Linked DNA regions of Homo sapiens. The protein of the gene in region 1 purifies or fractionates together with the protein of each later gene. This does not show direct contact. Each region holds a gene or a part of one and is shown on either strand. Other genes may lie near its edges.

Region 1 (4,927 bases):
GCTGGGACTACAGGCTCATGCCACCATGCCCAGCTTATTATTATTATTTTCTGGAGATGGGGGTCTCACCGTGTGTGGGGTCTCACAGTTGGTCTTGAACTCCTGGCCTCAAGCCTTGGCCTTCCAAAGTGCTAGGATTACAGATGTGAGCCACTGCATCCAGCCTGGATGAACAAATTAAACACAAACCCTGATGTTATAGTTCTTAATTCCTTGACCTGGTAGTATCTGCATCCTAATCTTTTCCAGCGATGTTCACCAAATCACCTATATTTTTGCAGGGCCCCTCATCTGCCCTCCCCCAAGGACCTTCTTGGCAAGACACAAACCTCATAACTCCTATAAGCTGGAACAATAGGTCTCAACAGCATGTTCCTGAAACCTCAAGGTCTTTGTATTTCTGATTTCTCTTTGGACAGCTCTTCCTAAAGATATTCATATGGCCCCCTCCATCATTTCATTCTGGTTTCCTAACAATGATTCCTAAGGGAGGCCTTTCCTACCAAGTGTTCTCAGATGGTGCCCTCCCCACTTCCTCCCACTGCTTCCTATATCCTTGCCCTGCTATAGTTTTCTCTATGGACCTTATTAACATCTGACTGGCACGTTACATATTTATTTTTTAAATACTGATTTTTTTTTTTTGAGATGGAGTCTTGCTCTGTCACCCAGGCTGGAGTGCAATAGCACGATCTCGGCTCACTGCAACCTCTGCCTCCTGGGGTCAAGTGATTCTCCTGCCTCAGCCTCCTGAGTAGCTGGAATTACAGGTGCCCACCACCATGCCCAGCTATTTTTTGTATTTTTAGTAGAGATGGGGTTTCACCAGGTTGGCTAGGCCGGTCTCGAACTCCTGACCTCAGGTGATCCACCTGCCTCAGCCTACCAAAGTGCTGGGATTACAGGTGTGAGCCACCACGCTTGGCCTAAAATACTGATTCTTTATGTGATTGCTGTATGTCTCCCCCGAATGGAATCCCAGCCCCAAGAACAGTGTCTGCTGGCACAAGCAGCACTCGTGTATTTGTTGAACTCAAGTGGTTGAACAGGAGACTTTTCAATAGTCTTTAATCTAGGGTGACAGATGAGCCTCTGGGCATTCTGGGGCCCTTTGGGACAGTTCTCGGCTACTGTTCACACTGCACATGGAGGGCTTCAAAGGATCCAGGGTCTGAATCAGCCAAGAACTTAGACACAGCTTCAGTTCAGGAGAGATGTCCTCTCTCATGAACGAAGAGCTCTCGAAAATGCCTATGACTGCAACAACAACTACAAGGAGTCCTTGATCACACAGCAGGAGGCACATGCGCCCTGTGAACTTGGTGGCTGCAGTCCTTGTGATGGTGCTTTTGGCTATTTCAGAAGAGGGAAATGTAAACAAACCTGCCCTTTATCTCCACTAGTTTGAATTTACCCAATCTCCCCAATAACTAATAAAAATAACGATACACATAAATATAATTTAGTTTGTTTTTATTTCAGCAGTTGTACGTGGGTTTTTCACCTGCCCCGCATTCTGTCTCCTGATCCCCCAGTAGAGTTTTGCTAAGTATTTCCCAGCTGCTCACACCCCTTAGAAACGCGCTTGGCATGCACCCCGAGGCCCTGCTCTTCTCTCCCTGTCCCACCACTTCAGGGCTGCTGGGGAATGGGTCTCTCTGTGGGCCACAGGTGTAACCATTGTGTTTTCCTTGTCTGTGCCAGGGACACCTTGGCACTCAGATGCCTGAAGGTAGCAGCTTGTCCCTCTTTGCCTTCTCTAATTAGATATTTCTCTCTCTCTCTCCCTCTCTCCATAAAGAAAACTATGAGAGAGGGTGGGTATGAACCAAGTTTGTTTCCTTGGTTAGTTTCCTAACCAAGTTTGAGGGTATGAACATACTCTCCTTTTCCTTTTCTATAAAGCTGAGGAGAAGAGTGAGGGAGTGTGGGCAAGAGAGGTGGCTCAGGCTTTCCCTGGGCCTGATTGAACTTTAAAACTTCTCTACTAATTAAACAACACTGGGCTCTACACTTTGCTTAACCCTGGGAACTGGTCATCAGCCTTTGACCTCAGTTCCCCCTCCTGACCAGCTCTCTGCCCCACCCTGTCCTCTGGAACCTCTGCGAGATTTAGAGGAAAGAACCAGTTTTCAGGCGGATTGCCTCAGATCACACTATCTCCACTTGCCCAGCCCTGTGGAAGATTAGCGGCCATGTATTCCAATGTGATAGGAACTGTAACCTCTGGAAAAAGGTAAGAGGGGTGAGCTTTCCCCTTGCCTGCCCCTACTGGGTTTTGTGACCTCCAAAGGACTCACAGGAATGACCTCCAACACCTTTGAGAAGACCAGGCCCTCTCCCTGGTAGTTACAGTCAAAGACCTGTTTGGAAGACGTCATTTCAAGTGCTCTCCCTCCCACCCCACCTCTTGGGGTAAGGCCTTTCCTAAGCTACCCCTTGGGTCCCTAGCCTAAGAAACAAGGGGGATGTCATCCCTGGTGTAAAGATGCTGTGCAGGAAGTCAGCACTCACGGGATCCAGGGGACGCTCCAAGGGGAATCCCCAGGGCCTGCCATCCATCCGGGAAGAGAGCAAATGCTACCCATGAGGACCTCCTCACTCCCTTTTTGCTCTTTCTTCCACTCAGATCCACCCCACTCCACCCCCACCCAAATCCCAGTGACCTTTGACTAAAGGGCCAAAACTGCTTCCTTTTCTCACAATGAGAGTTGTCCCTCCCTCAATGCCACACACACTCCCTTCTTCATCTGAGTTGTCACAGGAGGCTAGAAACGGGGTGGTGGCACAACTGTCTTGGTTTTAATTTGTGCTTCATAGCCCTCCCAGGGTCCTCTCAGCCTCAAATTGCATTTCCAAATGTAGTTGAAGGACAGAGTGGGCAACCGAAGGCAGTGGAGATGGGAAGATGAATGGCAGGGTCCTCTCCTCTCTCTCTCTGCTTCTTCAGCCTGCCTTCCACATCTCCCTTGGTGCCGCTGCTTCTCTCCGGCTTTGCACCTCTGTTCTTGAAAGGGCTGCAGAACTGGACTCAGACCACGCAAGAAGGCAAGTCCCCCTCAGCTGCCCCAGCTTCCAGCCAGCCCCAGGCTTGCCCAACGGACCACGTCCGTGAATCTGCACTGGGTGCCTGTCTTTCTCTCCCAGGAGAAGATGGGAAGATCCAGTACCCACACACAGACCCCCTTGTGTACACGCAGGAACCATAAACCAGCTGGAGGCAGCCCCTGCCCCACCCTGTCTTATCTACAAAAAATATTACAAGAGACTTTATCTCTTGATTTGCTTCATCGAGTGTCCCAACTACCTCATTTTTTTAAAATGTGAAATTAGCTTCATTTACCTTCATTGAATCCATGTTGGCGACTATTAAAAATTCCAGGCAATAAAAAGGGATGAGAGCCTGAACTAAAGCAGTGGCAATAACTGGTGAAAGAGTAAAAAAACAGAACTGATTGACTCTGGGGTGAACTGATTGACTCTGGGGTTTGACTAAATGAGGAGGAGAGAGGGAGGAATCCAGGGTGATTCTCAGGTTTCTGTACGGGATTCACTGAGCCCACTCACAGGAGCAGGCCTGTGGGGGAGAATTAATTACCAGTTCAGTTTGGTCCTGTTTCCCTGAAGAACTTGTAGGAGTTCCTGGTGGAACTGTCCAGCAAATAGTCAGTCTGGAGCTCAGTGGAAGGGTTAGGGCTGGAGCTAGAGATGTAGGAATCTTCAGCACACAGATATTGCCATTGTTTTTGTTTGTTTGTTTGTTTGTTGTTGCTGTTTTGAGACACAGTCTCACTTTGTCACCCAGGTTGGAGTGCAGTGGCACAATCTCAGCTCACTGCAACCTTCGCCTCCTGGGTTCAAGTGATTCTTCTGCCTCAGCCTCCCTAGTAGCTTGGGACTACAGGTGTGCGCCACCACACCCAGCTAATTTTTGTATTTTTAGTAGAGACAGGGTTTCACCATGTTGTCCAGGCTGATCTCGAACACCCAACCTCAAGTGATCTGCATGCCTCAGCCTCCCAAAGTGCTGGGATTACAGGCGTGAGCCACCGCACCCGGCCAGATATTGCCTTTGCTCCATCCATTTCTTCTTACTTCTCTTGTGTTGCTGAAATCTCTCTGCTGCATCTATCAGAGTCCTTCCCCAAACAGTTTCTGTAGATGGCTCCCCCTACCACCCTGACTCTTCACTGGGCACTAAAGCCGATTTTTTAGGCATGCACATTCCATGTCACAAACAGGAAGCTTCTCATTCTTTTTTCTCCCAGCGTGGGGAATTGAGCACATAATACTCCAAATAACCATCAGATGATTCTAATTCCAACATGACCACGTCCAGGCAACTGAACTGTCCCCTGGCAAGAAGTCTAGGACTGAACCTGTCCCGGGCCCCTGTACTTGGTTCAAAGGATTTAGCCTTTCTCTTGGCCACACCAGGTGGGCTGGAATCCTCTGCTTTACTGGGGCAACCCTGTGGTGGGCAGTGGGGCTAGGGGTTGCAGCCTAGCTTAACTTGGCATTTTGTCTCCTTGCAGGAAGGTTTATCTTTTGTCCTTGCTGCTCATTGGCTTCTGGGACTGCGTGACCTGTCACGGGAGCCCTGTGGACATCTGCACAGCCAAGCCGCGGGACATTCCCATGAATCCCATGTGCATTTACCGCTCCCCGGAGAAGAAGGCAACTGAGGATGAGGGCTCAGAACAGAAGATCCCGGAGGCCACCAACCGGCGTGTCTGGGAACTGTCCAAGGCCAATTCCCGCTTTGCTACCACTTTCTATCAGCACCTGGCAGATTCCAAGAATGACAATGATAACATTTTCCTGTCACCCCTGAGTATCTCCACGGCTTTTGCTATGACCAAGCTGGGTGCCTGTAATGACACCCTCCAGCAACTGATGGAGGTACGACCAAAGGTCTTCTGCCCAG
Region 2 (4,159 bases), on another chromosome or scaffold:
ATTCCAGTTAAACTAAGGTCAGGCACCTATCATTGGTACCTTTGCACAGAGTCAAAAATTGAAAAATAAAGACATGAAATAAATAGTCTGAGCTCACAGTGCTCTGCATTCCCAGTTCATTCTTAAGTGTTGGTTCTTTCTAAGGCAGTGTATTGCTTTTCTTCATTTGTTCGTGCTCGTGCATTCCATAGACGTTCACCCACCACTTTCTCTAAGCCAGGTCCATGGGGACTCTGATGAGGGACACCCGGCCCCTGCTCCCAAGTTGCCCCAGTCCGATGGGAGGGAGGCAGCCAAAGAGACATCATGTCCCCTTGTGATAAGAGCTGTGGTGGGCACAAGTACAAGGGCTCTGAGAGCACAGGGGGCTGGGGAGCTCCCCAGAGGCACTAATATCTAATATCCTGAAAGCCTCAGAGAACCTGTCGAGGATTTTGAGCAGGAGCGTGATTAGATCAACTGTGTACTTTTACAAGTGCAGTAGTATATATTTGAAAGTAATATGCAGTCTATAAAGGAATTCCAGTGGTATCTAACTGGATTTCTTTTTACAGTCTTTGTCATTATTCAGATCTCTCGTGGAGTCTGACCCCTTTGGTGTAGGCTGTCTCCCTAAGGGAAAGTGGTTGAGTCTTATGCTTTTCAGCAGCCTGAGATCCCCAGGGCAGGCATCATTACTGCTGGCTAGATGAAAGAAGGAGACTTGCCCCCACCTCTGGCTCCAGCAAGTCCAAAGCCAGAGGCCACACAGAGAGAAGGGCATTTCACGCAGTCACTACCAATCCCCACAGCAGTCATGTCTTCTTGCAGACCCCGTGCCTATTGAGCTCAGCTAGACAGGCCTCTGTGGCTGTGATTTTGGGTCCCAGGCCTCTGAAGACTGTGCATCATATTTTTCAAACTAATGAGGTTCCTTAAACAGTGTGGCATTGCCACTTCATGTCTCCTCATTTCCCTGTCGGGTAGGAACATCTGCTAGGGTCCTGGGAAAGGCAATTAGCAAATTAGAGTTTTTGTTTTCTTGCTCAGCCATGATTGAAGCCCCAGAGCAGATCCTTCTGGATAATGTCATTAAGCATCCCCATCCAAGCATGACGTAGGAAATTAAGTTTGGTTTTGGGGAAAAGTGACGGAGGCATCCTTTGGCGTTCTTCAGGATGCTGGCTGCTTACTGGGTTGAGAGATGATGGTATTCCTGTCAGGAAGATGGATCCTGTTGTATGTCCCATGTGCCTGGCCCAGTGCTGCATGCTGTAGTGGAGATGAGGAGAGGAGAAATGTGCTAAGTGCCCACTCCCTCTGGCTGGAGAGAGAAGGCAGGGATGAGCCCGACTTGGCCACTGCTGTGTCCCTTGCTCTCAGCTGCACAGTGCCTGGCACTGTGTTCACTAAGCATTTTTTGAACGAATAAATGAGGGTTGGAAGCAGGGAAGGATGCAAAGCAGTAGCTAATAAAGGAGTAGACTGGATACAGCCAAGAGTCAGCTGCTCAGGAGTGAGAGTCCAACTATGATAGTGGCATTACTGGGCTTCATGTCCCCATATCCTGACTTTAGCCCTGGCCCTTTCTCTGCTTCATCCTCTGAAAAACAGCAGAGCATGAGCCCTCCCTGAAGCCCAGCACAACCTCTCCACAGTCCATATGTGTGTTCTGCCCCATGTTCAAAGTACCAGGCTTGTGTCTTGCATGGAGGGAGTAGTGCAGTGGCTGGGGGCACAGAAGTGCTGGTGAAAGTTTCCTGCCATCAGAGGAATGCCCTCAAGGTAGAAAAAAGCAGATCAGTAAGGCCTGAAAGATGTCCCCCTGGCTGGCTCAAGGGTGGACAGAGGTACAGGGCAGGCCCCAGGAGGCCTACTGGATCAGGGCAGGCTTCCTAGAGGAGGTGGAGCTCACCCTCATGGACTAATTATCTCTCAAAGGCTCCACCTCCAAATACTATCACACTGGGGCTTTGTGTTAGGCCATTTTTGCATTGCTATAAAGAAATACCTAAGACTGAGTAATTTATAATGAAAAGAAGTTTAGTTGGCTCACGGTTCTGCAGGCTTTACAGGAAGCACGGTGCTGGCATCTGCTTGGCTTCTAGAGAGGCCTCAGGAAGCTTACAGTCATGGCAGAAGGTGAAGGAGGAGAAGGCATGTCACATGGTGAAAACAAGAGCAAGAGGCGGGGGTGGGGAGGTGTCACACACTTTTAAATGAGCAGATATCTCTCCAGAACTCAGTCACTATCCCTAAGACAGCACCAAGCCATGACAGACTCACCCCCATGACCCAGACAGCTCCCACCAGGCCTCACCTCCAGCACTGAGGATTACAACTCAACATGAGATTTGAGCAGGGACAAATATCCAACCTATATTAGGCTTCAACATGTGAATTTGGGGAGGACACAATCAGTTCATAGCCAGGCACATTCAAGTGGTGAAATGGCAATGTTGGAACACATCCACAATTTAAAAGAGCACTCACCACTTACTGGAAGCCCTGTGATGTGCCAGACTTTACAGGTGTCTGCTCTGATACTTGCAAAAGCAGGTGAGGTTAGCACATAGTTAGCAGCACTTCCAACCAGTCTCAGAGAGATTAAGTTCTGGCCTAGGGTCCAACAGACAGGTGGGGATTCACATCTAGGTCTCCTGTCCTTCATTAGATTGCCCAGCTGCTAGTTTCCCTTAACGGCTTATCATTCATGGACATGAGCACTCTGCTGTGCGCCCTGTACTGGGGGAGCAGCAAAGGGGCTGTCTATTTACTTGCCCACCTTGTCACACCACAGTGTGAGCACTCTTCAGGATCTCTGCCTGCCTCTAGTAGGGACAGAGACTTTGAGACTATGATTGCAAAGGAGAGCACTGGGCCCTCAATGACCCAGTATGGGCCAAGCCAAGTACTAGTAAGAGGTCTTCCCTGGGGCTGCTGTTTGGCTGTTGCTTTCAAACATGTTTAAGTGTCTTTTCAGCAACAGCAACTCCACAGTTGGCATGGTTGTGTGCAAGGATAAAGCAGTTTCCCTTAGAAATTTTCTGTGTGGGCCACACAGAGCTGGTTACAGTCATTGCTGTGGAGAGGGCATTATTCTAAACAACATGGAGGAAGAAGTAAGAGCACAGGCTTGTCATATGGTAACTCTGGGGTTGATCCCAGTCCTGCCACTTCCTGGCTGTGTGACCCCAGGTTATGCAAGTTATGCAACCTCTCTGAGCCCGGGCTGCTATTGCAAAGAGTGCTGCGTATGTATGCAGTATGTATGCATGTGCTGTGTACATAGGTAGTTTTGTGCATTTGAGAACATATCTGAATAAATGCTGGAAGTAGAATTGCTAGGTCAAAGGGTCTGTATATTTGCAATTCTGAAAGATGGTGTTAATTTGCCATTTGCCGAGGCTAAACCAGTTTATATCCACTTTAGCAATGTATGAGTCTGTCTTCTGTTCCACACATTCTCCAAGCATGCGTTATCCATTTTTTTGACCTTTAATAAGCTGATAGACAAAAATGGCATTTCAATGGAGTTCTAACTCATTTCTTTTTCAGTATACATTGAGTATCTTTTCAAAGGAACCATTTGTTTTTGTGTAAACTGTTGATATCTTTTCATATTTTGTACTTGTATTCATTTGTAGGAGTTTGACATATATTTGTTGGTAATTTGTGTTGCAAATTTTTTCTTATGTTAAAACAAGTCTAACTTCTTTTACAAGTGCTTTCAGCTACACCGTTTTGTTATTTCCCATTTTCATTTCTTGTTTTACATATTTCTGTCTTCTCCCCCATTAAATGATTATATGGTTTATGTTTTATGTGTTTTTAAAAATTTAGTTACTTATGCATTTAAAGTATATTTAGTGATATGTGAAAATGCAAATTACATAATTTTTAGGTGAAATAATCTAAATAAAGGCCCATTATACCAATTTTTAAAAAGAAAATTCATTATAATTTATAGACCAAAAAAAAAGAGAGAATAAAGCAAAATTCCTCCAAAAGCTGACAATGTTTATATCTGGTTAATGAGATAGGAGAAAGAGGTGAATTCTAGTTTTTGTCCTTTTTTTGTATTCTCTAAAATTTAGACATTTATTTAACCTTTTCTAATTAATGAGCTTTATTTCTTCAGAATAGTTTTAGATTTAAAGAAAAACTAAACAGATAGTAC
Region 3 (3,022 bases), on another chromosome or scaffold:
CAAAGGGAGCACTTTACAATAAATTTGCTATTTTTTTAAGTTAATAAGTATGCACTGAACATCAAACTCTTCAAGGTTAGTAGATGTCAGCAAAGACCCTAATGCCTGTCAGCTGCTCCCCACCTGTCTCCCTCAGTCCCTGTGTCGAAGCTAATGGTGAGTGCATATCATTCACTGTGCTGCAGTGCAGAGTGGGTTTTGGAGTGCTGCAGGAGAAACACTCATCTAATGAGAAACTGTTCTGTAAGCGACTCCGCGGCACAGCTTCTCTCACAGTTAATGTCCCTTATCTTCTGGCTCCATTTCTGCCTCCTCCGTGACCTCTTCATCTTCCTCTAGAACTGCTTTGGCATCTTGAAATTGTTGGTACTCGGATACCAAATCATGGATGTTATTTTCAGCTTCCCCAAATTCGTTTATGTCCATCCCTTCGCTGGTGTACCAGTGCACAAAAGCTTTCCTTTTGAACATGGCTGAGAAATGCTCAGAGACCCTATTAAAGATCTCTTGGATGGCCGTGTTGTTGCCAATGAAGGTGGCGGCCATGCTCAGCCCCCGGGGCGGGATGTCGCAGACAGCCACCTTGACGTTGTTGGGAATCCACTCCACAAAGCAGCTGCTGTTCCTGGTCTGCACGGAGAGCAGTTGCTGGTCCACTTCCTTGGTGGACATCTTGCCCCGGAAAATGCAGGCCACTGTGAGGTAGCGGCCACGGCGGAGGTCACAGGCAGCCATGGTATTGCGGGCATCGAACATCTGCTGGGTGAGCTCGGCCACGGAGAGGGCTCGGTACTGCTGGCTGCCCTGGGCCGTGAGTGGGGCAAAGCCGGGCATAAAGAAGTGCAGGCGGGGGAAGGGGACCATGTTCACCGCCAGCTTGCGCAGGTCTGCGTTGAGCTGACCCGGGAACCGGAGGGAGGTGGTTATGCCGCTCATGGTCAAGGACACTAGGTGGTTGAGATCCCCATAGGTGGGTGTCGTCAGCTTCAGGGTACGGAAGCAGATGTCATAGAGGGCCTCATTGTCAATGCAGAAACAGGCATCTGCATTCTCAATCAGCTGGTGGATAGACAGAACCGCGTTGTAGGGCTCCACCACAGTGTCCGACACCTTGGGAGAAGGCATGACGCTGAAGGAATTCATGATCCGGTCCGGGTACTCCTCTCTAATCTTGTTCATGAGCAGAGTGCCCATCCCGGAGCCTGTGCCCCCGCCCAGGGAGTGGACGATCTGGAAGCCCTGCAGGCAGTCACAGCTCTCACTCTCGTGCCTCACCACCTCTAGGACATTCTCGATCAGCTCGGCTCCCTCCGTGTAGTGGCCTTTGGCCCAGTTGTTGCCAGCCCCAGAGTTACCTGTGGCCAAAAAGAGAAACCAGCAGGGGAAGAAAGGTGAAAAGAGAAGGGCACCAGTAAAGCATCCCCCCCTCCTCCTGGTGGAACCTTCTGGAAAAACATACCATGGACAAAACTGTCGGGTTGAAAGAGAGCTCCTAATTTGCTAGATCGAATGCTGTCCATCGTCCCAGGTTCTAGGTCCACCAAGACTGCTCGGGGCACATATTTCCTACCTGTGTAGAAAAATAGGAAAAAGTCAGCCTACTTGTTTTTCTAAAAGTTAATGTTTTATCAAAATAGAACTTTGTGATACTGGTCCAAAAAAAATCATGGATATTCTAGAAAGGGGCCCTTGGTAGGTCGAGATTTGAGTATCTAACATCATATTTTTTACCCCAACAACAATCCCACAAATCTATAGAATACCCAGAAACAATCTCCATCAGTCTGCTCTGTGATATTGCCAGTGACAGAGATTCTCTTCCTTCATATTGGAAATGATCCTGGTTTCATTTGTGAAACCACAAAGGAAAGTGAGTACTTAACCTGCTTGTGTTAAGGTGTGTGCCATATCCAGCAGCTCCTTCCCCATTCCTGCGTCTTGACCAGGGCTTGGGGACCCACCACTCTAGGATCCTGCTGCCCTGCCTGTCGCCTCCCTGAGCATAGACATCACTGCTTTGACATTTCCATCTCCTGGGCCTCTGCCCTTCCTCTGCTTGTGTTCCCAGTTGCGGGACCACTGCTCCCAGAGCCCCGCCAGTCCTACCGTAGGCTTCGTTGTAGTACACGCTGATTCTCTCCAGCTGCAAGGCCGAGGCCCCGCGGTCGCTCCCAGCCAAGTCGATCCCGTGTTCCTCACCAATCATCTCCCAGAACTGAAAGCAGGAGGAAGGTCAGAGTAAACGGACCCCGAAAAAGGCTGTGTTAACCACAGAGAAAGTTAGCATTCCCAAGCCTGTTTCCCTCTGGTTGCCTGACCCTCCCCAAGACATTCTTTTAGGGCCTTTTCATAAATAACCATGGCATCATTCGCTTTTTGCCTCTACTAAGCAATGTGAAGTAATATGAAGATTGCATTTTCTCCCCACCTGAACTCCTTAAATAAAATGTCAAACACAAAGTACTAAATTGGATTTTCCTCCTATTAAATTCATGCCATTATATACATTAAAGCTGTTGTTTTAGAATTTAATGTCAATATAGCTCTAATTTCTCCTTATAATGCTCCAAGCTAGTAAAGTGTAGATTCCATTAAAGGAAAATAAACTGAATTCTTATCTGATTTCACAGTAATAACTCATTTCACTTTGGGGATTTCTTTTCATGAACTTTTCCAAACAGCCCATAACTTGGACCTCTGTGCATGATTTTAAGTAATTAGCGCCTTTTTTTTTTTTTTTTTTGATGGAGTCTTATCTGTGCAGTGGCGTGATCTCGGCTCACTGCAACCTCCGCCTCCTGGGTTCAAGCGATTCTCCTGCCTCAGCCTCCTGAGTAGCTGGGACTACAGGCACGCACCACCACGCCCAACTAATTTTTATATTTTTAGTAGACACGGGGTTTCACCATGTTGGCCAGGATGGTCTCTATCTCTTGACCTTGTGATCCACCCTCCTTGGCCTTCCAAAGTACTGGAATTACAGGCATGAGCCACAGCACCCGGCCTTTCTTTCTTTTTTTTA
Region 4 (4,159 bases), on another chromosome or scaffold:
CCAGTGCCCAATGTTGCCTTACTGGCCTTTTACATTTTTAAACTTGTTAGTTCTTCAAATACTGTTGTAGCCATTTGGAAAAATAAAATCTGCACAAATATCTTTTAGCAATTTGTTTTGGGGGTTGTGTGTGTATTTAAATCCCATGTTTATATGAACACTAGGTGATAATAAGCTCTCGCTAAAGGTAACAGTCTTGGCCGGGCGCAGTGGCTCACGCCTGTAATCCCAACACTTTGGGAGGCCAAAGCAGGCAGATCACTTGAGATTCAGCCTGGCCAATATGGAGAAACCCTGTCTCTATTTTAAAAAATAAATTTTAAAAAACAGTAACAGTCTTATGTGACTTTGCATCCTCCACAATTTCTAGCACAGTATTTTACACGGAACTAATGCTTAACTTTCACACGTGATTTTTTGAGAGTTGCAAGACATCCATAGTCGGATCAACAATTTTTAAAGAATTAGAACACCCCCAAAGTTATACCTTATCTTACAAATCACATTATACATAATTACATCTTTCTTTAATTATCAAAGAATCACTTTAGAACATTAGAGTTCTTCCAGATCACTGAATAGGAATTTCAACCATTACATTCCAGTACTTAGAGAAAATGTAAATATAATTGCCTTTAGTCAAACAAAACAAAAATAATATATTTGGATGATGAACAAGTCACCCAGAAAGGGCTGAAAATTAGCATGACAGGGAGAGAAAACATTTCTGGGTTGGCGACGTTGAAACACTGGCTGTGCATTAGTCCAGGTGTGGGAATTCCAGCCTCGTCCTATGTTGCTGGGATTCTGTTTAGTCTCAGGCAAGGACTTGCCTTCCAGGCCTTAGTTCCTTCTTCTGTAAAATGGACACACTTGCCTGTTTCAGAGGACTGAGGTGATGATTAAGACCCGTGCACCTGCTTTGGTATGCACCGCATTAGACAGTGGGCTCACACTTGATTAGGATCGGAATCACCTGGAGGACTTGTTAAACACAGATTGATGGGCCCTACTCCCAGAGAGTCCGATTAAGTTGATCTGGGGTGGAGCCCAAGAATTTGCATTTCCAACAATTTCCCAGGTGCTACTGGTGCTGCTGCCTGGAGCCCACCTTTCGAGAGCCCCTGGTCTGCACCATACCAGGCTGTTGGATAACTCTGTCTGGGGTGGATTAGACAAAATTCTGCGGGCAGGAGGTTTTCCTGGCCACTGTCAGAATACCTCCTCTAGAACTTCCGATTTCAAAGCAAACAAGTTTGTTCAGCATGGACCCTTCTTTTTGTTGTTCTCCCTCTATCTGAGAACATCTCCCTGTTGCATTTTGCTATTCAAAACCAGAAGAAAAGAGAGTAGATGTAGATGATTTCTGGCTTTGTGTAACCCAACAAATAATAGCCACTAATAGCACTTGATATATATATAGTGGGAGAGATACCTGTATAGGAGCAGTCAGGATAGCTGGGAGATTGAGTGTTGGATGAATTTTAACTTGGATGTGGGAGATTAAGGTGCTGGTAGCAAGACTATTGTATTAGTTTTCTATTGCTGTATAATAAATTACCTCAAAACCTAGGATTTTAAAACAACACACATTTATATTTTATAGTTTCTGAGACTTAGGAAATCAAGAGTGACTTTGTGGGGTGGTTCCGGCTCAGGGTCTCTCATGAGGTTGCAGTCGTTTCCCAGGGCAGTGGTCATCTGGAAGCTTGACTGCAGCTGGAGGACCCACTTCCAACATGGCTCGCTCATGCAGCTAGCTGGTGGCTGTTCCTTGCCAAATGGGTCTGTCCATAGGGATCCTTGGGAGATGGCAACTGGCTTTCCCCAGAGGGAGGGACCCAAGATAGCAAGTGAGCAACCAAGATAGAAGCTGCAGTATCTTTTTTTTTTGGAGACGGAGTGTCGCTCTGTTGCCCAGACTGGAGTGCAGTGGTGCTATCTCAGCTCATTGTAACCTCCGCCTCCCGGGTTCAAGCGATTCTTCTGCCTCAGCCTCCCGACTAGCTGGGACTACAGGCGTGTGCCACCATGCCGGCTAATTTTTGTATTTTCAATAGAGACAGGGTTTCACCATATTGGCCAGACTGGTCTTGAACTCCTAACCTTGTGATCCGCCAGGCTTGGCCTCCCAAAGTGCTGGGATTACAGGCGTAAGCCACCGTGCCCGGTCTGCAGTACCTTTTATAACCCAATTTCAGAAGTAACATGCCATCGCATCTGCCATATTTTATTGGTTACACAAAACGACCCCAGAAAAATGTGGGAAGTGTTGTACAACGGATACCAGCAGGTGGGGAGCACTGGGGGCTAATCTTGAGACTAGCTACCAAGGTTATTTTCATTAAGAAGCTTCTCTCTCCCCTAACTCCTCTATTTCTTCTCAAATGAACTGGTCCATGAGCTTGCAGAATGTTCTGGAAGAACCATGCCAGGGCTGCATTTATCTTCCCTGCATACTCTACCCCTCTCCATTCTGTTCTGTGACCTCCCCAACACTGACTTCTAGATAGCACCAACCAGATTCTCTTATCCTCTGCTTTCCTGTTGGGTCCAGCCAGTGGGAGGCCGCAGCAGGAGTCAGGAGCGGAGAAGAGAGAGGAGACAGGATATGGATCGCCTGGCTCTCTGCCTGTCACACCGCTACGGTCTGGCTGTCTCTCTCACAGCCCCTGCTCCCGCCAGCCTGCTCTCTCCATAAGCTTCCCTCTCCTGCTTCTGGTAACCATTTCAGCCCTTCACACCTTCAGGCCTGGGGTGCTCATAGCTCCTGCTGTCGCTGGCCGCTGGGTAGTGCATTATCCTTTCTGGGTTCCCCTACATCCTGCCCACAGCTGTGTAAATCACTCTGTTCTTAAGATCTCCTCAATCAAGATTTGCAGTCTCCCTCCTGCTATGGCCCTTACGGCAGCAATACCTGACTGGCATCACAGTGAAATTTCTGCTCAGAGGAAAAAAGCCTCGTGGACATTTACTGTTTTGGCCCAACTATATCCCACTCCCCTTCCCCTGGTAACGCTGTCCCAGTGTTCCCCTGGGAAACAGTCCCCACCCCTCAATCCATGAATTTCAGGTCAGAGCTAAGCCTATCATCCCTCACCCTAATAGTGGCCATGTGACTCAGTGCTGGCTGATCAGAATATCACAGCCCTGGCCGGGTACGGTGGCTCACGCCTGTAATCCCAGCACTTTGGGAGGCTGAGGCAGGCAGATCATGAGGTCAGGAGATCGAGGCCATCCTGGCTAACATGGTGAAACCCTGTCTCTATAAAAATACAAAAAATTAGCTGGGCGTGGTGGCACGTGCCTGTAGTCCCAGCTACTCGGAAGGCTGAGGCAGGAGAATCGCTTGAACTCGGGAGGCAGAGCTTGCAGTGAGCCGAGATCATGCCATTGCACTCCTGCCCGGGCGACAGAGCAAGACTCCATCTCAAAAAAACAAAAGAATATCACAGCTCTCTGGCCGATCATTGATTCAGGATGGGCACGTGCCCTAAGCAAGAGCCCAGGTTGTTCATCTCTGAGACTTTAATTAGGGACTGTGTAAAAAGAGGAGCTTCTTCTCTAGAGCTGCTGAGAGGGGCAGATGAAGCCTAGAAGTCATGGCCATTGTTGCAACTACACGAGAGTCTGTCTGTGGGAGAAAATGATAAAGAAGAGTGCAGAGTAGAGTGTGATACTGTGTCCAGAGACACCATTTGAGCCCCTAGATTCAGCAATGGCTGAAGAGAATTTATTCTTAGACTCCCCAGTTACGAGTTAATATATTCTTTTTTTTTTTTGCTCAAACAAAAAGAAAAAGATGAAGAGAATGAGAAGGAAAATGAGAAGAAAAGTTATCTACAAAAAATTATATATGCATGATGCCTAGAGTTCATATATTGGTAATTTCATTTTTAACGGTGCAGCTGTTATTCAGATTTTTGTTTTACTTCAGTACTGAACACAAAAATAAAAAAACTTTCCAAACGGAAATAATGTTTCGTTGTGTTTTTTCTCAGCCTGTCTGAGAAACATTCTAAACATTCTTTGTGACTACCTATTCATTCATTCATTCATTCAGCAGTCAGCAAGCATAGAGCAGATTTTGTAAGCCAAGACAGTGCCATGCTGAACGCTGCAGAGACAAAAGATGAATAGGACACTGGCTCTGGTCTTA
Region 5 (4,159 bases), on another chromosome or scaffold:
ATTATCCTCCACCCTACTTAATATGATTAATATTTTGCATGACTCTTACTCTTGCATTTATGAATAAACCAAAACACATAATTTCAAAACTAAGAAAGCAATTACAATCATCCCAGGAGAAGGCATGAATTATAATAACATAATTGGAAAGGCAAAACAATCCTGTTTGTGCAGGTATTTTGGTTCCATCATCAGAATGAAGTGAAGTTGGACAAAGTTAATCTGCAAACAATGGACACCAGACAGCTAAATGGTCATTATTTCATCTGAAGCACTCTTAACTATCAATTTGCCATAGCAATTTATAAATTCTGATTCTGTTTAGCCCATCAAGTATACTGTTAGTCTATCACCAACTAACAAATGGGCAGAAAAACTTAGTGATATTTCTTATTTAATTCTGAATGAGGCACATGCAATAAGTAAGATAGAGATAAAATGTGTAACAAGATAGACACAAAGTAACCCCAAACTGCTAGTCTACCTATAAGACATACTTCAAGGCTTTTTAAAAAACCATTTTAATCTACCCTACACAGTCTCTGTTTTGCAGTTCCAATGATCTTAAAATAGGTGGGAGACTAAATGTATGCAGATGATCATACCAATATGTAAATAAGAAAGCTTTTCCCCTCCCTTTGTGTAGAGCAAGTATTAATGCTAATCAAAAGAGGTATTCCCTATCTCATAAATGTCTCAGAAAATTCTAATTTTGAAAAAGGGAATTTATTTCCAGTTTACTAAACTAAGAATTTAATACACAGAAATTTGGAGTGACGTTAGTCCAATTCTATTAATAAGTATAATACATCATTTACTTTCAAAGACGTTTTTACTGAATTCTTCATGTGATATTCCAACTTTTAAGTATAAATCCCCTTCTTCCAATAGATAAACCATGTGAAATATTTCTGCCAGACTAATAAGAGTCTATTAATACTAAGTCTTCTTCTCAAGAAGACAAAATATAGAGGGGTATGGGCAGAGTTAGTGGAAATCTCCAAGAACTCAGATTTCCTTGAAACTTCTTGGACAACTAGTCAAATGAAAGGCAAAATTATTATAAGCAAAAAAGATCTTTAGTATGTGTAGTATTCAAGAAATTTTTAGCTTGCAATAAAAACTCCAAATATTAAAAATCAGATTTTTAAAGTCTGAATTTAGAATCCAATTACAGACACACAAAAAGGGAACAATCCTACATATAATTTCAAGGGGCTTAAGGATTTCTATGAAGCTGGTCCACATATGAACCACTAATGAGACAAGAGGAGTTCACTGAAAGGTTTTACGTCAGGAAATAACAGCCAGTTTAGTAGCTTCCAGACCATTTGAACAGCAGGTTGGAGGAAAGTTTGGTAATGCAGGAGGAGGTATGGCGAAAGGGAAACTAGAATATCCAGGTAGTAATGCAAGTATAAGATAATTAGAGGGAGGTTGCTGATGTAAGTTTCCAACAATAGAATAGAAGAATGCTAAGGAAAAAGAAATGAAAGCATTTGATTACTGATGGATGGTGACACATTCACCAAAATTCAGAATTTGAGGAGAGTTCTGTCTCAGACATAATGACTTTATTAAGGTCTCCAGGTGGAGATAGGTAGATGACAGCTGAATTTACTAGTTTGATACTCCAAGAATAAATCTGAGCTGAAAAAAGTCTGGTGACTCACCAACACATACATGGTCCTTGGAGCCATGAAAATGAGTAAATGCCCAAATTAAACCTGTAGAGAGAGCAGTCAAAAGGGCCAACCACAGAATCTTGAATTACTCCAATATCTGTGAGGTAAAATAGCCAGGAAGGGGTGTAAGGAATGGTCAGAGAAGAACAGGAAATAAAGATAGACCACCACCACAAAAGCCAACAAGGGAGACATTCGCAAAAAAGAATAATCAAGCAAGTTACTCTAAGTGACAAAAATTTCACCATACAATTCACTTTTGTGTGGTGCAAAAGTTGTGAACCCCACACACTTAATAGCTATTTTGATTTCCTAAACACCATCAATCCCAGTAAACTTTTACTCGGCCAAGACATCTTTCTTTCCCTATTCCCCAGAGACTATCATAAAACTTCTCCCTCCTAGTTTATCGATATACTAACACCTGTATCACTGAGAAATTAGGTAAGTCAAAAATAAATCCTGAAAATCTATCTTTACCTTTACTGTCTTATCATTATTCCTCCTGGCTCAATATGGGGTACTGCTACTTGTTTACAAAGCTAACCCCTCAACATCTAGTAAGTACTGTCCCCTAACTCCTCCAAGACTGATCAATATACTCTGTCCCTAAGTATCAAAATCAATTAAGATTGATTGTATGTTAAATAAATGTAAAATCTGGTAATATAGTAAGTACTAAATAAATGTTCACTCCCTGCACTTATTTTGAAGTCTCTTTCTCCTACCCTGCCTTCCCACATATTACTGTTCCCTGACTCCTCTAAAATGTGTTGATGATTAGGCAGCTGTTTCCCTCCTCATTCCCTTGGCTTGAAAAATATTTCCTAATTTTCTTTGACTGTTAAAATTCTACTCATTCTTTGAAGGCAAGGTGAAACTTATTCTGTTCATTCTGAACCCTTCAGATGAAATTAATCTCTTCCTCTGTTCAGTTTCAATAGCATCTGATTGTTACCTTAATATGGCATCTATTCCACTGTTTGTTAATTACATACATGTCTCATTTACTGGATCACAGTAAGTTCCTTGATGACCAGCACCTAGACTATCTGACCTATTAAGATTTTAAAAAATGTATACAGATAGATAAATGGACAGGATTAAATAAAATATATATTTTTAAAGACAAATGCTTATTAGTATCATTTTTCAATTATCAAATTTTCAATACTGAATAAAAATAATATGGTCATACTTTTAATAATAAATTAATTATTGTTAATACATATCATTACATGTAACCAGTATCATACTGGAAGAGTAGAAAGCAAGAGTTTTATGTCAAACTGGGAAAATGTGAAATAGCATCTACCAAGGTCACTCTTGCTCTAATAAGAAAAACACTGTAATTAAAAGTCAATAAAATATTCACTACATTTTTCATGAATGACATCAAGTTGCATAGGGCTTATATGAATTTAGAAAACAGAAATATATTCATAGTGAAAAATGTTTCATCAATACGGTGAAGTTAAATATGGACAAATCCAAGGTAGTGTGTAACACTTTAAAGCATATCATGCAAAGATAAATGATGAAAGCACAACTAGTAAAACTGGGGATCAGAGTGAAGTGATATGAATAAAATGCAGTGATGTATTATTACATTAAAAAAATCAATTATGTAGAAATTCCTTTAATTTAGTGAAACAAGTTTTTAGTAACTAGAGTTTTTATAACCTAGTAGTCTGTCTTATTTACAAAAGCTAGTACTACTTGCCTAGCTTAGTTATTTAAGAAAATTATTATGTAAAAAGAAGGTAGAACCCAGAGGACCTGGAGATCTATTTCAGCATTCTTTGAGCAAACTCCTGTGTCTTCAGTTTTTCTTATAGAGACTTTTCCTTTTGAGGAGACTTGGAAATCTACATTAACGATAACTTAATGTAAATAAATTGTTAATAAAGCACCTATAAGTCAAAAGAAAATGCTCATTTAATATAATTAAAACTACATATGACAGATACTCAATTTACCACACGTTAAACCAATCCATTTAATTTACTGCAGCACTGAAAAAAACCATGATGCTACACTTACATTTCTATTACAGATCCCACAGATGCCTGCCACAAAAATAAAGCATTTTCTTCACCAGCAGTCAGCCAGCTTACAGTATTTTCTCTTCCACTGCTGGTTCATTCTTTGTGCTGCAAAAGAAAAAAAGAGTAATTAAGATCAAGAGAATCAGTTAATTATGTATAATCCTTTCAAAAAATTCAGTGGAAAACTTTATCTTAAAAGTGGGAAAAATTAAAGACAAGATGCATGCTTTTACCACTGCTATTCAACATGACTGTAAGTTCTAGCAGAGCAAATTAGGGAAAAGAGATAAAGGCATACAGACGGGTAAGGAGGAAGTAAAACTATGTCTATTCTCTCTAGATAGAAGATCTCATAGAATCCCCAAGAAAGCTAATAAACAAATTCAGCAAAGTTGCAGGTTACAAGTTTGACACACAAAAAAATCA
Region 6 (4,664 bases), on another chromosome or scaffold:
TCCATTAGACCTAACAGGATAACATGTAGGCACTTCAAATCCCCTCTATCATCCTTCATGAAGCCAAGCTATTTTGAAATAAATGAGAAATAGGAACATAGCAAAAGCAGACCAAAGCAGTACATTTACCAAAAATTAAAACTGCCAATTTTCCAAAATTTTTGGGTACTGTGAAAATCATGATTGTTTTCTCTAACTTGAAGAAATTTTGTAATCCAGTACAGTATATCATCCTTCGGTACAATAAAAAAAAAAAAACTTTAAAGTGCTCAAGTACACTAGTAGGTGTGCTGGGAGAAAAAGTGACCTTCGGATCTCCTGAAATTGAGTAAAAGCAATATAATTATACTTCACTGATTTTGTAAAACATTTTTTAACATACTAAAGCCATATACTAAAGCGGAAATTATCACTAGCTGCTAGGATTAAAATTTCAAAAAGTGCCAGTGGAAGTTCTTATGCTTTCTTCCCACTGGCCAATAAGACTCCTACGGGTAATTTCTTATGTTTGCCTAGTTCCATGAATTCTTTTACAGAATTCATAGAGTCTGACTCTGTTGCCCAGGACTGCAATGATGTGATCACGGTTTCCTGCAGCCTTGACCACCCGGGCTCAAGCAATCTTCCCATTTTAGCATCCCAAATAGCTGGGGACCAAAGGCTTGCACCACCACGCCTGGCCTTTTTTTTTTTTTTTTTTTTTTTGGTAGAGACGGGGACTATGTTGCCCCAGGCTGGTCTTGAACTCCTGGCCTCAAGCAATCTCCCACCTTGGCCTCCCAAAGTCCTAGGATTACATGGCATTATTTGGCACTCATCCAAATAATTTATTTAAAAAAGAAAACATACATGGGTTTTGATGCTTAAGCACTCTCCCTCAAATTTTGACATCTTTATGATTAGGTAGGGTTCAGATTTTAAAATATCTTTGCAATAAGGTAAAGAAAGATCTATGTTTTGTTTTTTAATTAAAGGCCTTTAAGAAAGTGGGCAATAACAAAGCATTAAACGTATCTCTAAATACTGATTTCACTCCTCCAGTTCCCTTAACTTCAACTGTTAAAACGAACTCTCCCTTTCAAGCAGCGATGATATATTTTGGATGAACCTTAAAATCTTTTAAAAATATTCAATAAATTTAACCATTTTCTCAATGTGAACTCAACGACATTTTAATTAAAGCTTGTACCACTTTATTTTTATTTTTTTGAGACAGAGTCTCGCTCTGTCGCCCGGGCTGGAGTGCAGTGGTGCAATCTCAGCTCACTGCAGCCTCAAACTCCCAGACTCAAGCGATTCTCCTGCCTCAGCCTCCCGAATAGTTGAGATTACAGGCGCGTGGCAACACATCAGCTAATTTTCGTATTTTTTGTATTATTACTACTACTATTATTATTATTTTTTGTAGAGACGGGATTTCCCCATGTTGCCCAGGCTGGTTTCGAACTCCTGGGCTCATGCGATCCGCCCGCCTTGGCCTCCCAAAATGCTAGGACTACAGGCGTTGAGCCACAGCGCTCGCCAAAGCTTGTATCACTTCTCTTCCTTCTCCACCAACACACATAGTCGTCAAAAAGGAAATTCAAAAATAAAAAAAGCGAATAATGGTATCACTTCTACTTCATACTTTGAAACAGCCCCATATTCACCCATCACCCCCAAAAGCAATCAGTGCACTTAGGGCGTTGGGGTGCTTCACACTGCACTTAGAGCTCACCATTTTTAAACTTGAAGGGAACCGTGGTATCTTCAAAGTCTCCGAGTTGCCAGCGACCTCAGCCTCTCCACTTTCTCGAACATCATCCCTGGGCACTGTCTCCCGACACAGCCAGCGCGGTGGCCATGCGCCTCAAACCGAGCATTCCAAACGCGGAAACTCAACCCCGAGCGCGGAGAGGATGGAAACTGCCTGAAAGGATCTGTGCAGGGCTGGGCTTGGGACGCGGCTCACACGAAACTGAGGCAGGAGTCTCTTCCTGCACCCGCACCACGCCGGGACCCGAGGGGTTTCACTCCCTTCACTGAGCCGAGCCAGGAAGCCAAGAGCCACCAGGGCGAAGCAGCCCTGCAAAACCTCCACTCAGCCTTACAACAGCCACAGCGCCGGGACACGCGGCACCGCATCCCGGGCGCGCCAGTCCTCCTGCAGTCGGGGGACGCTCCCCTCAGGCGCCCGCGTCGGAGCCCAGCTACCCCCGCGCCGCCCTCACCTACCGAGGCTCCCCCGCGTCCACCGGCTCCTGCAGCGAGACAGCCGGCGCAGGCGGGCATGGTCCGAGCGCGGGCTCTGCAGGGGAGAATGAGGCGCGCGGACTGCCAGTCACCCGGGCGGCGTTCCCCGCCCTAGCGCTCCAGGGTCGCGAGTCCCACAGGAGTCCCGAGTTGCGGTCCCGGGGCGGCGGGGCTCCCGCCCCCTCCCCGCCCCCGCGGATATCCCCACGCACCACGAAGATCCCCACGCGCCCTGCGCAACGCGGCTGCTCCGCGCTGCCTTCTGCTGACTACAAACTGCGCCTCCAGGGAGCCAGGGCGAGGCGGAGGCCACCACCAAGTTGTGGCGCTCTCTCCTCTCGCTGCCTCAGAGCAGCGAGTTTCTCCTCAGCTGCAAACAAGGACGCAGGGCCAGCTCCGTGGGGCTCAGCGGGGGCAGAGGGAGAGCGAAAGCGCGGGAACCCGCGCATCTGAGGAAAGCTAAACATTTCACCTGTAGAGTCGGCTGCCCTGGCCCTCGGAGGCCCACCTTTGGCCCCAGAGTCCCTGAATCAATGATAATTAACATTTTTAAAAAATTTATTATTTTTAAAAATAAATTTAATCGGGAAGCTCCGAGCCAGAAGAGTAGCGTCTGAGACTCCCCATAATTAACATTCTTCACTCCTTAATTTTAATTTACCTCACACCAAACTAGCTGCTAACCCTCCTCTCCTCATCTGCCACATTCCCCACAAACCTTGAGCTGTCTTCTTTGCTCAGTCAGTTCCTCAGACTCAATCTTAGCACGGTACAGACCTTCGCCCACTGCCTTCCCTGGAAGCCTCAGGAACACAGCAGCACCCCCCAGCGAGGTGCGCACAGTGAGCAGGCAGCTCGGAAAGCAGCGGCGCTTGCGCACTGCGCCGGGGGCGGAGCCAGAGGCCCTGCACGTGGAAGCTCGAAGCCCGTAGGTGGGGCCCGCGCAGGAACGGACTCCTGAGAGACTTTCCATGTCCTGAAGCAAACTGTGTGTTCAGTGCCTACTCCGTGTACACGGAGTGGGCCTTCAACAAAACGATCGTTTTGTCATGGCTTTCTAATTTAATTCAAAAGGAGTTAGAAGATCGGGGAGGACTTTATGTTGCTCAGCTAATGGCCAAATCCCTTAGCTAAGGCTTCAGCTTGGAGCTAACAAGTACATCCAAGTTTCAGGGATCTAAAGCATGAAGATTTTTACCAGACTCATTCTGTCGGGTGCGGTGGTCGGTGATCTCAGCACTTTGGGAGACCAAGGTGCGTTCAGGAGTTTGAGACCAGCCTGGGCAACATAGTGAGACCTCCTCTGCCAAAAACAAAAAAAATCCTTGCACTCAGAAAATTAATTCTACTTCATAGCGCGGCTTATGAAAGCCTGATTCAGAGGCTATATAGATTACAGAATCGAAGTCTTCCAGTCCAGTCACTCAGATTTAGTTTTACAATTGCAGGCCTGAGAGTCACTTCATCCTTCAGTGGGTGAATCCTTTAGGGGCGAAGACGCTGAAGACAGGCAGCTTAAAAGATGCAGTATTCGGCCGGGCGCGGTGGCTCATGCCTGTAATCCCAGCACTCTGAAAGGCCGAGACGGGCGGATCACCTGAGGTGTTCCAGACCAGCCTGGCCAACATGGCGAATCCCAGTCTCTACTAAAAAATGCAAAAATTAGCCAGGCGTGGTGGCGTGCGCCTGTAGTCCCAGCTACTTGAAAGGCTGAGGCGGGAGAATTGCTTGAATCCGGGAGGCGGAGGTTGCAGTGAGCCAAGCTCACGCCACTGCACTCCAGCCTGGGCAAAGGAGTGAGATTCTGTCTGTCTGTCTGTCTGTCTGTCTGTCTCTCTCTCTCACACACACACACACACACACACACACACAAAGATGCACTATTCCATTTTCCAATAATCACTTTCTGTAAGGCAAGTTTTAAGTGTATTTTACAACTGGATTGAAAGAGGAGCTTCAGGGATCTGTGAATACCGTAAATCTGAGAATTAATTTTTTTTTTTTTTTTTTTTTTACGGAATCTAGCTCTGTTGCCAGGCTGGAGTGCATTGGCGCGATCTCGGCTCACTGCAACTTCCGCCTCCCAGCTTCAAGCGATTTTCCTGCCTCAGCCTCCTGAGTAGCTAGGATTACAGCCAGGCGCCGCCATGCCCAGCTAATTTTTGTATTTTTAGTAGAGACGGGGTTTTACCATGTTGGCCAGGATGAGTCTCGATCTCCTGACCTCGTGATCCGCTCGCCTCGGCCTGCCAAAGTGCTGGGATTACAGGCGTGAGCCACTGCGCCCGGCCTAAAATGTTTCTTTCACTATAAGTTCAATTTAGTGGAAAGACGTTCTTTAACTATCATCAAATTCTAATGTCAATGACACTACCCCACCAAAACACAGTCGGAATTTCTGTTTTCTGTTTATGCTCCTATAAACCAATGGT
Region 7 (4,159 bases), on another chromosome or scaffold:
AGAAATGTCATAATGACATGAGCTTGAAATATCTCTAGGCATTTTCTTTGACGCTCATGACGTGGCACTGGTGATGTTGTAAACAGCAGAAAACAGGGGCTGCCAAATGACCAAATTATGGAGGCACAGTCCTGCTTTTTCCCACAGGAACACACCAAATGGTGATGGCAATGATCTTCTCACACCACGCTGGAGGAGAGCGACATCACGCGACGTAGCTGTATTCATCTGCCGACGCCTGGCTGCGTTCTATGTATTGTTTGTCTATCAGAACTTCAATACACTTCTTAATCATGCTGATACTGGGATTAAACCTAGCTCTTGACTGGCTAATCACCTGTGGAAGAGATGTGGAAGTCAAACTACTGCCAGTTCTTCAGCTATTAAGTAATGACTTTTAACCAATCAGTTTAAAGTGCCTCAAATGTACTGAGGTTTCAACAAATGGGCCAAATTAAGTATGAAAATAGGAACTACAATGTGGAAAATGGATACAGCAAAATCTAATAATGATACATAATTAAGTGAAACAATAAACTAATTAACCTAAGTACTCACACACAACCCCAAGCTTCTATTTAACTCAACTCTCAGCTCTTAGTTCAAACACTTTCTCAAGAAAGTTTTCCCCAGCAGCCCCTAGGCCAGGATATTTAAATACATTCTCATAGTACTGTATACGTTTCCTTCAGTGCATGCTAATGTAATTTTACATTTATTTGCATATCATTTCAATAGTGTATTTCTTCCCCCATTAAACTGTGAACTCCAAAAAAGCCTGCCATATCTTCAGCTGCTCTGTGCTATATCCCAGGGACCAGCCCAGCTGTCTATCACATGGTAGGCTCAGATAGTTATGGAATGAATGAATATCTGATGGGTCAATTTCCTTCAATAACTGGACAGAAGACTCAATGAATCAGCAAGTTTTAGACCTCTAAAATAAAGCCAAAGCAAATATGAATTTATTATTATCATTTGAGATAGCATCTCACTGTGTCACACAGGCTCAATCCCTGGGCTCAAGCAATCCTCCCGCCTCAGCCTCCCAAGTAGTTGGTACTACAAGTGTGCCGCCACAACTGGCTAATTTTTTAATTTTTTAATTTTTTTTTTTTTTTTTTTTTAGGTGAGATGGGGTCTCCCTGTGTTGCCCAGGCTGGTCTGAAACTCCTGGACTCAAGTGATCCTCCTGTCTTGGCCTAACAAGACATTCAGATTACAGGTGTCCACTGGGCATGGTGGCTCACACCTGTAACCCCAGCACTTTTGGAGGCCGAGGCAGGTGGATCACCTGAGGTCAGGAGTTCGAGACCAGCCTGGCCAACATGGTGAAACCCTGTCTCTACGAAAAATACAAAAATTAGCCAAGTATGGTGGTGCACGCCTGTATTCCCAACTACTCGGGAGGCTGAGGCAGGAGACTCACTTGAACCTGGGAGGCAGAGGTTGCAGTGAGCCAAGATCACGCCACTGTACTCCAGCCTGGGCGACAGAGCAAGACTCTGTCTCAACAACAACAACAAAAAGGATTACAGGCATGAGCCACTGTGCCCAGCCTGCAAATCTGAATTTAATACTGAAATTGTGAGTGAGTACGATTCTGATTAAGTATGAAACATTTCTTTATGCTATCTGAGGATCAGGTTATTTCTGTATCCTCTTTAAGAAGAAAGAGACTGAATCTGTACAATGACAATGCCCTCTACCCTAAGAAGCCCTGAGGACTGCCCTCCTTTTACCTCTTGAATAAGGGCATTGTGCCGAAGCACTTTTCGTGCTTTCATGATACGAACTATAGCAGCTTGGAGATACATTTTCCGGTCCTCATCAACTGCACTTCTAGTCTGCTCCATTTCCTGTTTTACAGAAGAAAAGAAAAAAGACCCAACAAGACATTAAGTCACTGAACTTGTTTTCAATTCATTTTATCAGTGAGTGCAAATACTTTTTTTTTTTTTTTTTTGAGACAGGGTTTCACTCTGTCGTCCTGGCTGGAGTTCAGTGACTCGCTCTCAGCTCACCGCAACCTCCATCTCCTGGGTTCATGTGATTCTCATGCCTCAGACTCCTGAGCAGCTGGGATTACAGGTATGCACCACAATATTGAGCAAATTATATAGTTATGTTGTGCCAATATCACATAACCACTGCTAAAACATCTACAATTTCTAGGGTTAAAGTTGAAAGATTAGAAAAAAATTTACATTATTGTAAACTGTACTGTTAAGGTAAAGAGGCAATAAAGGAGGACACAGCAATAATTTGCAAGATCATTTTCTTATCAGTGATTACAGAATCTTTCATGACGCTTTTAGATGGAGTTGTGTCAACTGCAGTAATTAGCTCCAAATGCATACTGGATCAGGCTTCAAAGGGAAGAGCTGTGAAGTGGCATTTTATGTGGCTCAAGCAGAGAAGCCAGGAGAGGGGGCCTATCTCCACGGAGCTCAAGAAACACAGAAGCAAGGCATAGAAGCAGACCATGCCACATTAAGAGGATCTCCTCACAGCGTTTCAAAGACAAAATACAATCTATATATTGCAAATTATTATTTATTAGCCTGGAGGAAAATGGAATCTTGACCATTTTAGGTTTCAAAGTAAATGGCAGTTAATATTTGTCTCCCCCCATCGGGAATTAAGTTTCTGGAGAGGGTCTAACATCTTATATTATCTTCACATCCTGCATCAGCCCAAGGACTGCACACCGGAGGCAATCAGGAAGCATAAGTGATAGAAACAGTCTATCCCAGACCAAAGCAACAATCACTGCTGAGTTAAAATAATGAAGAGCAGAAGTCCCCTCCTCACACTGGCCTGTCAGTACCTCACTCCACACCCACTAGATCACAATCTGCATTTGAACAAGATGCCCAGGTGGCTCATTTGCATATGAAAGTTTAAGAAGCATTTTCTACTGACAAATTTTCTTTGAAAGAAATGAGCTGTAGGCCAGGCGCGGTGGTTCACACCTGTAATCCCAGCACTTTGGCAGGCTGAGGCGGGCGGATCACGATGTCAGGAGATCGAGACCACCCTGGCTAACACAGTGAAACCCCGTCTATACTAAAAGTACAAAAAACAAAATTAGCCAGGCATAGTGGTGGGCGCCTGTAGTCCCAGCTACTCAGGAGGCTGAGGCAGGAGAATGGCGTGAACCCGGGAGGCAGAGCTTGCAGTGAGCCGAGATCACACCACTGCACTCCAGCCTGGGCGAGAGAGCAAGACTCCGTCTCAAAAAAAAAAAAAAAAATGAACTGGAGAACTTTCCCTTATTTTACAAATGAAAAATATGAAATTTTATTACTTCTCAATGTGGGAATTTTCGGAGAGAATGCATAGTTACACATTCTAATGGTTTAAGAGCAAATACAACAAAACCATACCCTTTTCCTTAGAAAAAACTAAAATACAAGTAGAGATTTCTGTTTGACTGTAAGGTTAATAAATGCCAACAACAAACCAGAAAAGACATATCCCATTATTAATTTTGCTGTGCAAAGTTTTGCACAATCTCAATGTAAACACTTGTAAAGTCCAATGCTTAAATGTTTCCCCCTCAAAAAAAACTTGACATTAAAAGCACTTACTTGTGGTGTGTCTTTCTGCATTGATGTAGTAATTTTAAATTTTGTTCTTTTACTGCTAAAGTTCATATTTAATGAAAACGAAGATTCTGCATCAATATCTTCCTACATTTAAAAATAAAACATTTATATTTATAAAAACCAAAATCTTTAAATAAGAGTTTGCTGCAAGCAATTCTGCTAAATTAATGACCAAGCAAAAAAGCCTCCACTCTCATAACTTTTATATTATAGATTACCAAATTTAAGAGAAAAATAATTCTTTTGTTCAAACAAACAGGAAAAAACCCAATTATTTTCTACTTTTACATCTGCCAGAATCTTAAGCAGTTTATGTTTGGGAATAAGCTATTTTCTGGTCCTACTATTCTATATACACTACTTTTTGATAAAATAAGAGTCAAGCTCATTGCCTAGAGTTTGACATTTTAATTTTTATGAAACACCAAAGTGCGTAACTTTTCCATCACCCCATTTTGAAAAAGCAACCACATTTTTTTTTACAAATGCCGCAGTAACAAAATACCCACTGTAAATGGCCTGATGACAAGAGAAAGCTGTGCCTCCAG

What was found.
Region 2: the proteins of SERPINC1 (region 1) and SPSB4 purify together in Homo sapiens (co-immunoprecipitation; one large-scale study listed by IntAct). This does not show direct contact.
Region 3: the proteins of SERPINC1 (region 1) and TUBB1 purify together in Homo sapiens (affinity purification with mass spectrometry; 3 studies listed by BioGRID and IntAct, with this or other methods). This does not show direct contact.
Region 4: the proteins of SERPINC1 (region 1) and BTD purify together in Homo sapiens (affinity purification with mass spectrometry; 3 studies listed by BioGRID and IntAct, with this or other methods). This does not show direct contact.
Region 5: the proteins of SERPINC1 (region 1) and RNF146 purify together in Homo sapiens (co-immunoprecipitation; one large-scale study listed by IntAct). This does not show direct contact.
Region 6: the proteins of SERPINC1 (region 1) and TEX15 purify together in Homo sapiens (affinity purification with mass spectrometry, with the first as the bait; 3 studies listed by BioGRID). This does not show direct contact.
Region 7: the proteins of SERPINC1 (region 1) and CUL2 purify together in Homo sapiens (affinity purification with western blotting; one study listed by BioGRID). This does not show direct contact.

Annotation. Positions count from the first base shown.
Region 1 is NC_000001.11:173,914,528-173,919,454, reverse strand, and holds the start of SERPINC1 (antithrombin-III isoform 1 precursor), read left to right. Parts: upstream 1-2,127; 5' UTR 2,128-2,195; coding exon 2,196-2,236; intron 2,237-2,514; exon of another isoform or gene 2,515-2,950; coding exon of another isoform or gene 2,951-3,048; intron 3,049-4,268; exon of another isoform or gene 4,269-4,437; intron 4,438-4,535; coding exon 4,536-4,902; intron 4,903-4,927. UniProt on the Homo sapiens protein: Most important serine protease inhibitor in plasma that regulates the blood coagulation cascade. AT-III inhibits thrombin, matriptase-3/TMPRSS7, as well as factors IXa, Xa and XIa. Its inhibitory activity is greatly enhanced in the presence of heparin.
Region 2 is NC_000003.12:141,057,329-141,061,487, forward strand, and holds part of SPSB4 (SPRY domain-containing SOCS box protein 4), read left to right. Parts: intron 1-4,159. UniProt on the Homo sapiens protein: Substrate recognition component of a SCF-like ECS (Elongin BC-CUL2/5-SOCS-box protein) E3 ubiquitin-protein ligase complex which mediates the ubiquitination and subsequent proteasomal degradation of target proteins.
Region 3 is NC_000020.11:59,022,038-59,025,059, reverse strand, and holds part of TUBB1 (tubulin beta-1 chain), read right to left. Parts: intron 2,216-3,022; coding exon 2,107-2,215; intron 1,571-2,106; coding exon 1,460-1,570; intron 1,356-1,459; coding exon 277-1,355; 3' UTR 1-276. UniProt on the Homo sapiens protein: Tubulin is the major constituent of microtubules, a cylinder consisting of laterally associated linear protofilaments composed of alpha- and beta-tubulin heterodimers.
Region 4 is NC_000003.12:15,650,061-15,654,219, reverse strand, and holds the end of BTD (biotinidase isoform 1 precursor), read right to left. Parts: 3' UTR 506-4,159; downstream 1-505. UniProt on the Homo sapiens protein: Catalytic release of biotin from biocytin, the product of biotin-dependent carboxylases degradation.
Region 5 is NC_000006.12:127,279,910-127,284,068, reverse strand, and holds part of RNF146 (E3 ubiquitin-protein ligase RNF146), read right to left. Parts: intron 3,839-4,159; 5' UTR 3,731-3,838; coding exon 3,729-3,730; intron 3,554-3,728; exon of another isoform or gene 1-3,553. UniProt on the Homo sapiens protein: E3 ubiquitin-protein ligase that specifically binds poly-ADP-ribosylated (PARsylated) proteins and mediates their ubiquitination and subsequent degradation. May regulate many important biological processes, such as cell survival and DNA damage response.
Region 6 is NC_000008.11:30,909,929-30,914,592, forward strand, and holds the start of TEX15 (testis-expressed protein 15), read right to left. Parts: upstream 3,081-4,664; 5' UTR 2,951-3,080; intron 1-2,950.
Region 7 is NC_000010.11:35,010,106-35,014,264, forward strand, and holds part of CUL2 (cullin-2), read right to left. Parts: intron 3,696-4,159; coding exon 3,594-3,695; intron 1,860-3,593; coding exon 1,743-1,859; intron 338-1,742; coding exon 206-337; 3' UTR 1-205.